Regions from separate parts of the Homo sapiens genome. Here region 2 is linked to region 1. The links come from fine-mapping of genetic effects on gene expression. Tissue or cell type: tibial artery. Region 1 holds a variant in brackets; the other region holds the start of a gene. All regions are shown on one strand. Distances are from middle to middle.

Evidence for each region. PIP is the estimated chance that this variant, and not a neighbour inherited with it, causes the effect.
Region 2: it holds the start of GLP1R, and the variant in region 1 is fine-mapped to the expression of GLP1R in tibial artery (GTEx, PIP 0.98).

Annotation. Positions count from the first base shown.
Region 1 is chr6:39,087,055-39,089,808 of GRCh38, reverse strand. GLP1R (glucagon like peptide 1 receptor) reads right to left here. Exons shown (of 13, transcript NM_002062.5): 13 at 1-2,754. Among named protein-coding and RNA genes, the nearest start is that of MIR9983, 14 kb to the right of the region's middle. RefSeq lists an enhancer at 676-1,982. The variant G/T (reference allele first, on the strand shown) is at 1,435.
Region 2 is chr6:39,047,081-39,049,834 of GRCh38, reverse strand. GLP1R (glucagon like peptide 1 receptor) reads right to left here and starts at 1,054. Exons shown (of 13, transcript NM_002062.5): 1 at 917-1,054. The coding sequence starts at 994. RefSeq lists an enhancer at 1-370.

The DNA.
Region 1 (2,754 bases):
CATTAGCAAATAATGGGAGCCCTGTCTGCGCATGGAGAGGAAGCATCTACCACTTAGACTCCCAGCCTCGGGTGTGCGGTCCTATGACCTGCACAGCGGGTGTGATGATTCTGGAGTCATCATCTCCTAACTTTATGCTGCTATGCACAGAAGAAACATGCACACACACATGCACACACATACACACACACACGCCCACATGCAATGTTCTTTCCTTGCGGAAGAAAGAAATGGGAGGGACTGAGGAGGGGAGGTCTCCTGACTGTGAGCTGCTGGATAGTACACAGCCAACCCTGATGAGAGTGGCCAAGACCTTCAGAGCATGGAAGGGAGTTGACTCCATTTGCCCTTTGTGGTGCTGTGCCATCTTTGCTAGGCTACAGTTGCCGTTTGCTAGCTGTCTCCAAATTCAGAGGTTCTAAAGAGGTAAAGGGGAGGTTCAAGACCTTTTAGGTTATTTTAGTACACTCTGTGTGACTATCAATACAACTTTTCAAACACATAGAGAGGCATCAGAAAAAAAAATTAAGCCAATCCATTAAAAGAGTGCTGGAATTGCCATCCAAAATGGCTTATGTGCTGTTTCTATGTATATGTGTGCCCTGATGCATTTCATTTCTTAAGTTTAAGACAAGGATGAATGAAGTACCAGTGTAAAAATAGGAAAGCACATCCTTCCCCTCCTCTCACCAGTATAAATTACAAAGGAGATGACACTTTCACCATCTGATGAGTCTACCTTTGCTGCTGTATTTCCTCTTCAGTAGAAATTCCAGATAACACCACTGACTTTTACTCAGAGTATCTTGAACAGCTATTTATAGTTTTCACCTATCCTTCCCAGAGGCCTCACTAGACTGAGAGAAAAGGGCTTGTCTGGGTCCTGGCCCAGCTCAACCACCCTCTAGTGTTGTGACCTTGGGCAAGCCACCTCTACAAGCCTCATTCCTCAATCCTATAGATCGGGCCAGGGGGGATCACCAAGGTCTTTCTCTGCTCAGAGCTCTCCCAGAGCTCCAACGATGTGGTCTACAGCATGAGGCACGCTAAGACCATAAAAAATCATCTCTGCAATCCAGAAGCTCATTTTAAAGGGAAGGAACTTTGCAATATAAGTGTTTTGTTTCAGTTCTGCGATTCAGCTGCTTGAAAGACTGAAATGGCAAAGAAAAATTGACAAAATGCAAGCCACTAACAAGTTTGAGGAAGCTGGCCAGAGTGCTGAAGTCAGCTGCTGTTCACAACAGACATCAGACCTTGTGGCTACAAAGCTCAAACAAAAGCAGCGCCTACACCCTGCTGGTCAGCAATAGTACCCCAGGACAGAGGCAGCCGAGAGTTCTCAGCAAGTTCCAGGCGTATGGCATTAGGCATCAGGCATGTAAACAGCTGCTGGAATTTCAGAGTACATTGCATTCAATAGTTCCCAGACCT[G/T]TTGGAGCCATATTTAGCTTAGGAAAGCTTGGAAAGAGTGCAGTGCCATTTGAATGACTATTAATAGCTTCGGGGGGCCGGGGGAGCGGGGGTTGGAGCAAAGAAAAGATTTCTTCAGTTCGGTATCTTGTATGTATTCATGAAGGAAAAACTTCCTCCGTGTTAAAAGACTTGGGTGTAGGGGTCTGATGAGCCTTCTGAAATCAGGAATCACCAGTTCTCGTTGGGAAGACAACTCTACTTACAGTTTAAACTAAATGATTTGAGCTTCCCAGGTGCCTAACTAAGCAACTTCTTCCCTACAATCCCTCTCCTCAGCAATTTATTTCACACAGATTATATCAATCTGTTTCTTTGTTGCTATGTAATGTAATAATGATTCTCAAAATCCTCAGTTTATCCAAAACTTAAACACTTGCACCAGCACTGTTTCCCACATCAACCCACTGGTGCCCACGCTTACGAAGAGACAGCAAATAAGGGGTGCCTTTGGGAAGCCTGCCCTTGTTCTGGGGAAGCAGGAACGCCCCCCTGCCCATATTGTCTCAGTCAAGGCAGCCATCCACACAATTCCTTTCTTTAGCCCGAGGTTCAACTTGCCTATTAACATAGACAACACTTCACTGAAGCTGAAGTATAAGAAATTTTCTACTTGATGTGTTTTATATCCTATTATTTTCCTTGCACATCACATGCCTCTCTGAGGGGCACAGGAGAATGTGTCTGGGGAAAGGTTTTGGGGAGGGTTCCCACCATTTAAAAGGGAGAGAGAGACTGACTCATAAAGGAATCCGTCGGAACCCTCTGCTCTCCCCGGAGGTCCTGACTCCCAAGAGCGAGCTCTCTCTTGCTCCAGAAACTTCTTTTGCAGCCACGAACTCCTTGCCAGCCTCTCTAGGATAGCCATGTGTCTGGCTATCTGCAGTGCTGCTGTGTGTCACCATGGCTTGGGGCTTCCTCACCATGGCTGGGGGCAGGATTGATAGGTTTCCCCGTCCAGTCTTTCTGCTGTTCATTATTTGTGGGGGAGGCTGCAGGCAGGGCAAACCTTAATTAGCTCCAAGTGTGAGTGGGTCAAATCAATTACTACTGCACTCTCCCAAACAACATCACTACAACCATGATTTCGCTCATTTCCACTAGATGGGAGAAGTCAGAATTGCCCATTGTGCACACAGACTATTCACAGCAATAAAGAAAAGTGAGTGAAGTATATACAAGCTCCCAAGTGGGGGAATTTCAAAGGCAGGGGGAGCCTGCCTCCATGGTGCTGATGGGGACTATTGGTTTCCCTAAGAGAGTCTCTTCATGGTCCCCTAA
Region 2 (2,754 bases), 40 kb after region 1:
CTTTGGACAGCTCCCCTCTTCAAAAGCAGCTGACCACTGTCCCTAGCCCAGGATCCCAGGGCAGGAAAAGCAACAAGGGCAAGAGAGAGGGGCTGCGGTGGTCCACCTGTGGCCTGCTCTCTGGTGGCACCAAGGAGCCCAGGTGTTCTTGCGTGTCCCAGTATGCCTTCTCTTGGGGCCTGCTGTCAGTGCAGGATGAGAATGGGAGGTCAGCAGAGTGGGTGAGTGGGGGCGCCTGGCTGCTTCCAGGGGGGCACTGAGCCTTCTGCCTGTTTGCTACAGAGGCTGGTAGGGGACGGGGGGTAGGTTCCATCTGGGAGGTCACTGGGAAGGACAAGCTGCCACCGCAGGGCCCCAGGAGCCATGAATCAAAGGCTGTGCTGGGGGCTGATGAGAAAGGGAGAGGAGCCGGGTCTCCGCACCCTGGCCCTCTCAGCTCCTCCCAGGGTCTTCTCAGGGTCTTTGAGCAGGTGGATTGTCTGGGGAGGCACTGCGGGAGAGGGGTCTGGGTCAGACTGTGGGGCAGAGGGAGTCCGGGAGGATGCCGGGCTGTGCCAGGGCCGCTGACACGGTTTAGAAGGAGTTGGGAAAGTGCTGGGGACAAAGGAGAAGCGGAGCAGAAGTCAGCGCAGGGCGGCCGCGGGGCAGCGGGTGCCCGGGCAGAGGGACCCGGGTGGCGAGGAAGAGGGCGCCTCGCTGGGGTTGGGGGGAATCCTCTGTAGTCCAAGCCCTCACCTGGGCCTTCCAGCCCAGGGGCACCAAGTCTCCAGTCCCTACTCCCCCCGAGGCTTTCGGATGCCCCCGCCAGCGGTCTCGGAGTTTCGTTCAAGTCCCGGGGCCCTCCACCAGGACACTGCGCCTGCAGCCCGCAGAGCCACCCGCCTCCCCCGGTGTCGTCGGGGTCCCTGGATCTCACCTGGGGGCGGGGGCCGGCCCTGCCCACCATCCCGAGCAGCAGCAGCGCAAGGCGCAGCGGGCCGGGGGCGCCGGCCATGGCGGGGAGTTCAGGACTGGGCCATCGCTGCCACCTGCGGAACCGCGTGCGGAGACTGATCCCGGGCTGGTGGCGGGCGGTGGGGGAGGAGCCGGCGAGGGGCCGCCCTGCCCGCGGGAGGGGCCTGGCAGGGTCCCGGTTCTTCCGGCCGCCAGAGACCCCTGGGCCCGCCCCGCCGCACCCCTCTGCCGGTCCCGGGCCAGGAGATAGCGGGCACTGCTCTCCGAGCGAGCGCGGCTGGGAATCAGGAAGCGCAGGAGGCGGCCACCAGCTCTGAGCGCCGACAGTGCGCCTGGCCGGCTTTCAGCGACAAGCCAGGCCCTCCTCCCACCCTGGCACCCCGGACCTCCTCCCGGGTCTCCCAGCTGAGGAAAGCTACAGCAACCCCCGCCCATTCAGGGTCCCTCAAAGGAAACTGAGGCCTGAGGAATGGACGGGACTTGTCCAAGGTCACACGGCTTGGCAGGCCACTCCTGGAAAGTATCCTCAGAGCCAGGGGTGACTAATAAGAACTTTTTTTTCCCAGGATTACCCCTTCCCAGGTCCTCTTCTCATTCCCATGTTCTGTCCTGAAGGCAGGCCCAGGATAGTCAAGGTTGGGGGTGGGGAGACTGACAAATGGATCCACAGAACTCTGACAGTCGCAAGGGTCTAGAGGTTCCCCTCTACCTGGAAACTTCAGCATTGCAGGGCAGGGAGGGATGAGGCTGGGGTCTGCCTTTCTGGAAGCTTCCCTGCCACCTCTTGCAGCTCCAGCCTCCTGCTCTTGTAACCTGTGTATGTGTGATAATGTGTGTCCATGGTTGTTCCTGCCTTCTTTATCTCTCTCCCTGCTTCGCTTCTTGGGGACTCTGGATCTTTCCTGTCTGTTTCCACTCCCACCCCTAAACACTGCAGGGCCCTCAGGTTCCCTTCTTACACCCAACAAGTGGAAAGAGAATGCTAAGAGGGCACTGACTGTATCTTCCCTAATGCTCTTGAGAAGTGGGGATGGGAAAAGAGGATCCCCCACCAAAGAACCTTGATGCCACTCTTAGGAAAGATGAGTTGTGGCAGAGCCCAGCCTCGGACCTGCCGTGGGGCATGTCGACTAAAGGGACAGGAAGTTTGTGAAAGTAGCTACTCCTGGGGAGAGAACTGAACTTCTCAAAGTCCTGAGGAAGGCTGGACCTGCCTGAGCCCAGGGAAGGAGACAGCCAGTGGGAGGGGCCCCTGGCTTCCATTCACCAGGAGAGACTCTCCTCTCCAGCAAGCTCTGGTTCCACCACCTGAGACTCGTTTATTCCCTCCCCTCCCAAGAGGTCAGTCTAGCAGGGACCTTCTAGGTATCACTTAGGATTAGGTTGTTCACCTGGGAGTGACAGAAAATCCCACCCCAAACAACAATGGCATAACCAAGGGCTCTCTCATGTAAAGCAAGGCCAGAGGTTCAGCCCAAGGTTGGAGTGGCTGCTCCCTGATCATCAGGGTGCCTGGGTCTTCTAGCTTCCACCATCCTTTGGTCCAAGATTTCCACCTCATGATCCAAGGTGGCTGCTCCAGCCACGATATCCAAATTCCAACCAGCAGGAAGGAGGAATGGGAAGGAGATGGGTGCACCTCCACCCATAAAGACACATCTTGAAAGTGGCAGCCATCAATTCCACACCTCTTGCTCAGAACTTAGTCACATAGGCACTGCTAGCTGCAAAGGAGGGTGGGAAAAGCACCCTCTATTCCAGGCAACCATGGGCAAGGTTAAATACTGGGCTTTTATACTC